2 linked regions of the Homo sapiens genome follow. The protein of the gene in region 1 purifies or fractionates together with the protein of each later gene. This does not show direct contact. Each region holds a gene or a part of one and is shown in the gene's direction. Other genes may lie near its edges.

What was found. Proteins that work in one complex are often made in the same cells at the same time.
Region 2: the proteins of VRK2 (region 1) and MAP3K7 purify together in Homo sapiens (pull-down; 2 studies listed by BioGRID and IntAct, with this or other methods). This does not show direct contact.

What each region holds. Positions count from the first base shown.
Region 1 is NC_000002.12:58,083,059-58,088,378, forward strand, and holds part of VRK2 (serine/threonine-protein kinase VRK2), read left to right. Parts: intron 1-1,030; coding exon 1,031-1,080; intron 1,081-1,822; coding exon 1,823-1,892; exon of another isoform or gene 1,893-1,941; intron 1,942-3,280; coding exon 3,281-3,368; intron 3,369-5,282; coding exon 5,283-5,320. UniProt on the Homo sapiens protein: Serine/threonine kinase that regulates several signal transduction pathways.
Region 2 is NC_000006.12:90,576,546-90,581,450, reverse strand, and holds part of MAP3K7 (mitogen-activated protein kinase kinase kinase 7), read left to right. Parts: intron 1-4,905. UniProt on the Homo sapiens protein: Serine/threonine kinase which acts as an essential component of the MAP kinase signal transduction pathway. Plays an important role in the cascades of cellular responses evoked by changes in the environment.

The sequences.
Region 1 (5,320 bases):
TATAAAAATATATTGTATCTCAAGAATTTGATCCTGTTCTCAAGTCTGTTTCTTACTGATTTTCAATTGTAGTCAATACTAGTTCCACCTTTTTTCCTTTCCCTTTCCTTCAGATATCATCCAGACACTTAACACAGTGCCTGGCATATTCTAGCTTCTTGATAAATATTTTAGCTATTTAAATGAGTAAAGGAATGAATGGATGGAGAGTGAACAAATGAACAAATGACGAAGTTTTAGTCTTTTGCAGTACAAATAAATATACATGTAAATTTATTGAGATTTGAAAACAATCTTTTAATAATTTAGGTAATGTAGAGGAAAAGATTAATTTGTTTTAAAATGTGAACACTGGAGTTTTTAAAAGTAGGGTTATACCATCTGAACAACAAATGGAAAATAAGAATTAAATGAAGTAAGGTAACTTGAAATGAATTTATGAGATATGTATTCTTTAATGTAAAAGTAATTGATTAGCAGGTTCAGAAGAAATTTTTAAAGACTTTATTCTCATTTTAACCTTGCTTGTTCTAGAATTTTGTCAAGTATAAATTGTTTTGAACTTTCTACTTAAATTGAATCGATTTTTATTTCTGAATCATTATGAGTTCTAATTTAGTGCAATTGAATCAATGGATTTTACTGTGTATTATATATTGGCTTTAATGCCATATATCTATAAAATATTTCCCCCCACATTTTGGATCTATATGATTCATATTGTCTATTGATTCTGTATTTAAATATTTAAATATGGTTTATGATCAAGTGTATGGGCTGTGATGTCAGGCAGATTTGAGTTTCTGTCTCTAATATATTACCTCTTAGTGAGCAATTTATTCAACGTCTCAAACTTCAGTAGCATCTTGTATAAAATGGAGATGATTGATTCCTACTACCATAAAAGGTTGTTGGGATGACATAATAAACTTACATATGTAAAATGCTTAGCATAGTGTTTGGGATATGGTAGGTATTCAGTAATTGGGAATAACTATTTTTCTCCATTGTGTGTTTTTTTTGTCTGCAGCTTTCCCCACAAATAAACCAGAGAAAGATGCAAGACATGTAGTAAAAGTGGTAAGTGTTGCTCATAGATTTGTATTTCACATATATTTGACTTTTTCCTTTTCTGCTTTAAGAATGTTTTTCACGTTAATTTTTGTAACTATTGCCTTATCAGTAAACCTAATGTTATCATCTGTTTTGACGTTGTTAAAACATTAAAACTGGAGAACCTTTGTTTTTCTGTATTGCCAGCTATTACCCTGGTGTGTTATCTATCTAGCTATTCTTTCTCTTTCCCTCCCAAATGCCCTCCCACCCTCTCCACCTCTCTAATCAAGATGGTAAGGTCCTTAAAGGCAAGCATAGGGTTTTATTTCTTTTTGGTGTCCCCTGTACCTAGTATAATGAATGAAATATAGTAGACCATTCAGTAAAGGTATCATGTGTGAGTGGACCACAAGGAGAGTTTGCTGTGTATCACCTGGATGTATATGTTGGTATACAGTGAGTGTTGTATATGTTTATGTATACAGTTCTCAGTGCTTCTAGTAAGTGTTCTCTGTAAGAAAACTACTTTTATGTGTAAGACTGTATAGGGATAGTGGTACAATATGTCGTTTAAAAATTAGATTCTTCAAGTTTATTTAGTGTTTTCTGAGATTTTTAGTGGAAATCTGGTGCCTATGTTTTATAAAAAGTGATTCAAGTACTATTATATACTACATATATATGTTCATATTTTCACAGTTGAAATAACAATTCCATCTTTGGGATTATTTTTTTCTAGTAAAATTAATTATTCTTTTTTTTATAGGAATATCAAGAAAATGGCCCGTTATTTTCAGAACTTAAATTTTATCAGAGAGTTGCAAAAAAAGACTGTAGTAAGTAAAATTAGCAAAGCAAGCTACTTCCATATATGTGCTTGCTAAAGTGAGTGTTGATATTTTGGTCTTTTTCTGGCCTTCTGGAAAATTCTTTTCAATAGAAATTTTATTGTAAAGTGATACAGTTAACTGTTACAACATATAAAAGCAAGACAGATGGTATACAAATCTTGACATGACATACATAATGGGTTATATATTTTAAGTCAAAGTTGTTTCTACTACTTTACATAAAATGTTAGGTTGTTAATCTAAGCTACCAAGAGTTCCCTAAGTGTAAAAGATAGTAGAATGAAATTATTTCTTTTACAGTAAACCATTTGGATAGGACGGCTATAAGGAAAAAACATTAAAATGGGAAGTAGATATATGTATAAAAAAAGAACGATTGTAGAATGGATTGGGGCAAGGTGTGTGGAAATGTGAAAATGATTAAACTTTAAGATGTTTAAGAAAATGTTAGAAACTTGAATGCTGGAAAATTAATTGGAGCTGGATACCAAGTGTAAGAATGACCAGTTAGAAGACTTGAATGGGAAATGAATATAAGCAGAGAGGAAAAATAACAGCATTTTATAAATGTGATATAGATGGGCTAAGAAAAACATTAAAGAAGTAGACAGGAGTAATGACTGTATAGTCAAGGTCCTTTACATCATGTTTAAGAATAAGAGTGATGGGTCTGACCTCAATATTTAACTTAGTTTTTCTTAATAAAGTCTTCTAAACATTAAGACTGTAATCTTTACTAATTGCTTAAACTATGTCACAGTGACAAATAGAATCCATTAAACTTGATTGTTTATCAGTAGAGCTGTCTTAAACATAAAAAACATAGGCTAGAGTCATGAAAAAAATGATGAAAGTTAACTTTATTTAAGTGGATTTGATTTTTTGTAAACTAATCAAAACCAGTTTTTGTATAAAGTAATTTCAAAGTAAGATGGTTTTTCTGCCCAATTTCTGCTTTTTTTTTCTTTTTTTTTTTTTTTTGGTCCATTATGGTTTTAAATCTTGAAGTAATAGGGAAGAAAAAGCCATCTCTCTACTGATCTTTTGGTGGTTAACATATGTTATATTTAGAAATTTAGCTAGTATATAAGATAATGAATTCTTTTTATAGATTGAAACATTAATATATATGGTATCAATATACAAAGCCTATGACTTGTTTTTATTGATTTAATTTAAAAATTTCTAATTTTTTGTTAATTATAGTGGTAACAGTTTGAGGCCATTAGATAGAGATGTTTGATTGAAAAAAAATTATCTTCTAGGAAGATCTAATTACTTTTTTGGTTAGCTAAATAAATTTGTCTGTAGAAAGGTGACAAGTATCTTTTCAAATAACATGAATCTTTTTAAAAATAAATTTGTCTTTGTAGTCAAAAAGTGGATAGAACGCAAACAACTTGATTATTTAGGAATTCCTCTGTTTTATGGATCTGGTCTGACTGAATTCAAGGGAAGAAGGTAAAATGGAATTATTATAATCAAATATTTCTTTATAACTATTCCTTATGTGGTCTATGAGTTAACTATTGCCATGTAACAAATTACCAAAACATATTGGCATATAACCACAAACTTGTATTGTCTTAGTTTCTGTGAGTGAGGAGACTGCAAGTGGCTTATCTGTATGATTCTAGATCAGGATCTCTAATAAGGATATGTAGTCAGCTGTCTGCTGGGTTACATTCATTTCAAGGCTCATCTGGGGAAGTATTTGTTTTCAGGGTTCCTCATGTGGCTACTGGTAGGCCTAAGAAGATCTACTTCTAATTTACTTATGTGATTGTTGGCAGGCCTTCTTACTTCCTGATCATGTGGGTCTTTGCATAAGCTACCTGAGTGTTATGAAAAATAGCTGGCTTTCTCTAGAGCAATTAATTGGGGGACGGGGAGAGCATGCACACAAGTGCATTCAAGAAGGAAGTCATCGTTTTTTGTAATCTAATCTTAAAAGGGATATTATCGCTTCTGCTTTATTCTCTTTGCTAGAAGCTAGTCACTAGATAGATCCATTGGTCCTGAGAGAGGAGAATTCAGTTCTATCTCTTGAGGAGAAGCACAACAAATAAGTTATAGAAATATCTTTAAAACCACCAAATATGGCTAGTCCTATATATAATTTATTAATAGTGTTTGAAAAAAGAAAAAAAGTGTGTCATTTTATATTTACCCTTTTGTGCCAGAGACTTTTATATACTTTATCTTATTTTGTCCTTTGAATAGCCTGTTAAAATAGGTGATATTATTTTTATTCCATAGATGAGAGAATAAGCTCAGATGTCAGTACTTTGTTGAAATGGTCTCTAAATGCTTTAAATTTAAAAAAATGAGCAAACAGTAATCTTGAAGTAAAGGACTGCCACTGGGGGACTGAATGGCTGATTGAATCATGATACATCCATATCATGTCATATGTAGCCCATTAAAGAAGTCCATTAGAGCTATACTAGTTGCCTTAGAAGGATTTTGATGAGATACTATTGAAAAAAGTAAGATGGAGAAAATACTTATAATATGATCACATTTTTGTAAAACAAATTCCTAAGTGTGTGTGTTTGTGTATGCATGCATAGATATAGAATAGGGGCTGATGTGGATATATAAATGAAGGGAAGGAAAGAAGGTATGGAAGGTGCCAAACAGAACAGAAAAGGAAGAAGTGCACTTAAAGACATGTTTATAAATGTATAGAGACGGTATATATGATCTTATCAAGAAACAAACAAATATAAAATTCATGTGGCTGGGCACGGTGGCTCATGCCTGTAATCCCAGCACTTTGAGAGGCTAAGGCAGGCGGATCATGAGGTCAAGAGGTCGAGACCATCCTGGCCAACATGGTGAAACCCCGTCTCTACTAAAAATACAAAAATTAGCTGGGTGTGGTGGTGCATGCCTGCAGTCCCAGCTACTTGGGAGGCTGAGGCAGGAGAATCGCTTGAACCTGGGAGGTGGAGGTTGCAGTGAGCTGAGATTGCACCACTGCACTCCAGCCTGGTGACAGAGCGGGACTCTGTCTCAAAAAAAAAATCAAGTGTGTACAATAATTTGTTCAAGGCCATATGGCAAGAAAGTCATGGAGTCAAAATGAATTGCATTCAGTACTATCTAATTTAGAAAGATTTTTTCATTATGTAAAACAGTGTGAATGGTTCAGTACAGCATTCTCTTATAGAAAATCAGCTGCAAAGTAAATATTGAGCAGTTTCTGCAAAAGAATAGCAGAATTATGAACGTGCATTCATTCTCTAATGGTTTAGATTGCATTATACTTAGTTGTTAGGTTGAGCGTAATTTTTCTTGTTTCAAATTAAATAGACAGTTTCAAGCATTACTTTCTCAGGATGATCTCTTTTTGATGCTTTTTTCTTACAGTTACAGATTTATGGTAATGGAAAGACTAGGAATAGATT
Region 2 (4,905 bases), on another chromosome or scaffold:
TTCTAACATAGTTGGAGGCTCCAAGTCCTAACTAATAAATGTATGATCTATGCTTGTTCTGTCTTGTTCCGCATTTCCAGCCAGAACAATGCCAGCATCACCAGGGGTCCATTCAGATAGTTCATAGAACAGGGCCAAATGAAACTGACAGCTGTAGTCACTGAACTAAAAATAACATGAATTCAGAACAATTAAAAGAATTATTTAATAATAAATTAAGAGCACAAAGGCATACATCCTTTTCCATTTAGGTTAGGTGTGTGTTTGGTTGTTTTCTTTAACATGACTTGTCTGAAGGAATGGAGTCATCTTACATCATAAAGAAATTAATTTTTAAAGGAATTTCTTTAAAAATAACACACAAACACACAAAACCTGATTTTTGTTTTTGTGCCTTTCAATAGTAGTTGCATGGAAATGTTCTATATACCATCTCATATTCTTCTGTATTTTTTATTAAGAAATTAAATTTAAATCTACTTAATTGTATGAGACTAAAGTTGTAGACCCAAAACAAAGAGGTTTCAACCATAGGGGGAGAAATGCTTATCATAAAGTAATTAATCAAAAACATTTTGATTTAGAAAACATTCATAAATTTAGAAGGAAATATTTCCAAATTGACCTCCCTTTTAAAACCAAAGTCCTTTTTGCATTCCTCTGTTTTTTACAAATGAAGGATTATGAAGAATATCTGAAATATTTATTTGTATGTCACCATTTTAGTTGGATGTGTGTGATGGGGAAATACTTGTAACTTGATATGTTCTCTTTTTTACTCTTGATGAAAATTCATCTTTGGGGAAAAAACAGTCATTTAAAATAATGTTGGGCTAGGTACGGTGGCTCACACCTGTAATCCCAACACTTTGGGAGGCCAAGGTGGGAGATTGTATGAGGCCAGGAGTTTGAGACGAGTCTGGGCAACATAGTGAGACCCTGTCTCTATAAAAAATTTTAAAAAACAAAAAACCTAATTGTTAATTACAGTGTGTCAAATAAACTGTATTATTCAGAAAAGAATACGGTTCAGAAAGCACGTTTGATTTGTGAACTTGGACTAGAAATTTGGTAGTAAATAAAAAGTGGCCTTCTTTCAGTGGTTTACAACTTGAATATTAAGTTTTTTCATTGTTTACCTCAGTTGCCAGTATGTCTCAAGAGTGGCCATCTATGCCACTTTTTTTCTGTTGATCTACCATATGTCAAGAAAAATATCAAATTTGCTTTCTGTAGTTTGTAACATTGGCTCATTCCTTATCTAATAATGTACATAATCTCCTTATGTGTTTTTAGGCTTGGCCTTTGCAGTCCAGACATACTATTATTCTACATCTGATCTTCTCCACGATTTTATGTTCTTGATTAATACAATAAGGAAATTTGTTACCAAGATATTTGCATTTGAAACATTTTCTTAGAAATATGTGATATATTTTTTAAAAATCTATACACATGTAAGATTTTCCCCAGTCAGTGGAGTGCTGTTTTACATAGCCTGAGAGGTGGAGTGCAGACAGTAATGAACTTTCTTAACCAGCGTTTCCTGTTGGAGCGGTGGTGTCCACAATTTTTTGTTTGTCTGTCTCCCACTGGTAAAACAAAACACTTTCTATTTTGTATACTCAGTTTTCAGTGTGTATGTATGAAGTCGGTATTTTTAAACAATGGGAGATGAAAGGTTTCATACTATCATTTGATCATGGCTCAAGTTGCAATAAGTACTTTCTAAATAAAACCTTTCTAAAATGTGAGAATTGACTTAATTAAAATGAGATAATATCTGTAAATCTACTTAACTAAGGTCAAGTAAACTACAATATACACAAGTGAGGGACTGATAATGGAGTCAGTATTTGACATATTGAACTTAATAAGCCTGTAGGACCCCTTAGTCTCAAAGGCAGTTTTAAATATATCTTGAGCTTGGGCAAAAAACCTGGATGGGAGAGATTTGAGAGTATGAATCCATGAGATTAGAGAACAGATTCAGAAACAAAAGGGCCAAGGACAGAACCCTGGAAAGTAGCAACATCTAAGGTTTGGACAGAGGAAGGAAGAATCAGTGAAGGAGGCTAAAATAGAACTCTTAAGCAGAGACAGGCAGAGAAGGGATTGTTGACAGCCATCTTTGGAGACTGCCATAAGCCCTTTATACACAAGCCTTCTATTAACCCAACTTCACTCTTTTCTTAAAGGAGATTAGGGCTTTTTAAAACCCCCTTCTAAACAGCTAAAATCTGATTCGAATATAATCTTTTGAAAAGTTAATTGTTGTTAGTTATCATACTTGCTGCCTTTGAGTAGCATTTTTCTCTGTACCAGGCACTGGACCAAATCCTGGCAGGCCTCTGTTTTGTTGGCACCATGAAACATACCTGAAAGCTGACTCTGATTTACTAATTACATGATCCTTGAATAGGTAACTTCAGTTCTTGGAGCCTTGGTTTTCTTCTCTCTAAGGTAGGAATAAAAAATCCTATATATTCATGGGTTTATGGTGACACTCAAACTCCATCATATTTGTAAGAAAGAGCTTTACAAGTTGTAATATATTGTTAAATATAAGGTTGCATTATCGTTATACAGATAATAAAATTGCATTTCTTTAAAATGTTATTTCTTGAAGAAAGGAATGAGAAGTATATTGGAATGCCCTGGGAAGCTTTTTTTATGCTACGTAGCACCTTCTGCCACCTCTAATTCCCATTCAGACTTCTCCCTTAGAGAGCTAATATCAGAATGGGGGGAAGGAGAGCAAAATATACCAGGAAACAACTTTATCCATTGTATATATCATCTGATTATTCTATCTTCTACTCTTATGGATATATGCTTATACTCTTTTTTGTTTAAAGCACAAAACTCCTGTCTCTGGCCAGGTGCAGTGGTTCACGCCTGTAATCCCAGCACTTTGGAAGGCCAACCCAGGCAGATCGCCTGAGCTCAGGAGTTCAAGACCAGCCTGGACAAGATGGCAAAACCCCGACTCTACTAAAAATACAAAAATTAGCTGGGTGTGGTGGCACAAGCCTGTAATCCCAGCTACTTTGGGGTGGCTGAGGCAGGAGAATCACTTCAGCCAGAGAGGCAGAGGCTGCAGTGAGCTGAGATCGCGCCACTGCACTCCAGCATGGGCAACAGAGTGAGACCCTGTCTCAAAAAAACAAACAAAACAAAACAAAACAAACTCCTGTCCTCCTGCCGGTATTTCTTACTTGTTTTTAAAAGTTAAGAAATGTAACTATTTTTCTATAAACTACTGTTTAATTATGAGTCATTCCTCTTTTCAACTCAGTAGAGAAAAGCATTTAATCTTGCCACAACAAGGATAATTTCCATGTAATACTTACCTCTTTTATGTATCTTTGTACTCAGAAATTTCAAGATTAATTCGGTTATTTCAAAATTCAGTCTTCCCCCATAAGGATTTTCCTTTTCCCTTTCTCCTGCCCAAGATGACATATGGGTGCTGTGGAAAGCTTCCACAAATAATATAAACAGCAAGGGAGAGCTCTCTGGTCTGTGTGATGGCTTCCACTGAAATATCTTGCCTTATTATCTGTTGTTAATGGATTAGCCTTGAATGCAGTGATTTTCAAACATTGAAACTACCTGGAGGGCTTGGTAAAACATGGATTGCTTGGCCTTACCGTCAGACTCTATAATTCTGGGTTGCACCCTGAGAATTTATATTTCTAATAAATATCCAGGTGATGTTGATACTGCTGAACCGGAGACCACACTTTTAGAGCCACTGGCATATGCTTTCACTGTCCTTATATCTGCTTTCCTTCTGGAACGTCTTTTTCTTTTGGCTTCTCTGACTCTCTCCTAGTTTGCCTGCTACCATATTGACTGTTCCTTCCTGTTCCTTGCCCATTCCTTCTCCTCTCTTGTGATCTAAATGTTGAACTGCTTCAAAGCTCAGTTCCTCTACTCCACTATCTCCATATTATTTTTGGTTACCTCTTCCAACTGATTGACTAGAAAAACTGACTACATGCTAATGACTCCCAAGTTTGTATCTCTTTGTCTGACTTCTCCATAGATCCTCTCACTCACGTTTCTACCTTCTTACTTGATATCTCCTCTTGGATATCCAGTAGGCATCTTAAACTTCATATGACTAAAACCAAACTCTGAGTTATTAAAAAAAAATCTGCATCATTCTTATCCCTCAGTAAACTGTTGTCCAGTCTAGGTGTTTTCCTTGATTCAGCTCTTTTCCTCTACACCTGTCCTGCCTGGATGCAGAGCATCAGCAAACCCTATTGACTCTACTTCTAAAACATTTCCCAGATCTGCCCAGTTTCTGCACTACCATTGACCTTGCCCTCGTAGCTATTGTTGCTTGTTTGGACTGCTGTAATGGCTTCCTAATGGGTCTCTATTTACATATCCTAGCTTCCCTACAATCCTTTCTTTAAGAGCTATAATGATTTTGTTTAATGTCACATACCATCCTTACTTCCTTGAATTTTTTCAGTTCCTTCACATTGCACTTAGACTGAAATTCAAACTCCTTTTTATGGTAGGTAGAGCCGTTCAGGATCCAACCTCTGCCTGTCCCTCCAGCCTTACCTTACAATCACTCTTCCCTTCCTCCACTATACACCAGCCACACCAAACACTCCCAAGTATTTCTCTAAATCATCACTAAAATGTCACCTTTCTCAGTGAGGCCTTGAGTGATTACCTTGTCTAAAATTGGAGTGAGGCAGAGTGCATACATGTGTGTATACACACACAATTATACTCCTTTTCTTCTTAGCACACAACTCCCTTCCTTTTTATTTGTCTTTTTCCACAAGAATATAAACAATGAGAACAAGGATTTTGATTTGGTTTGTTCACTCTTGTATCATCAGTGCCTAAAATAGCGCATAGCCCTTAGATTGGGCT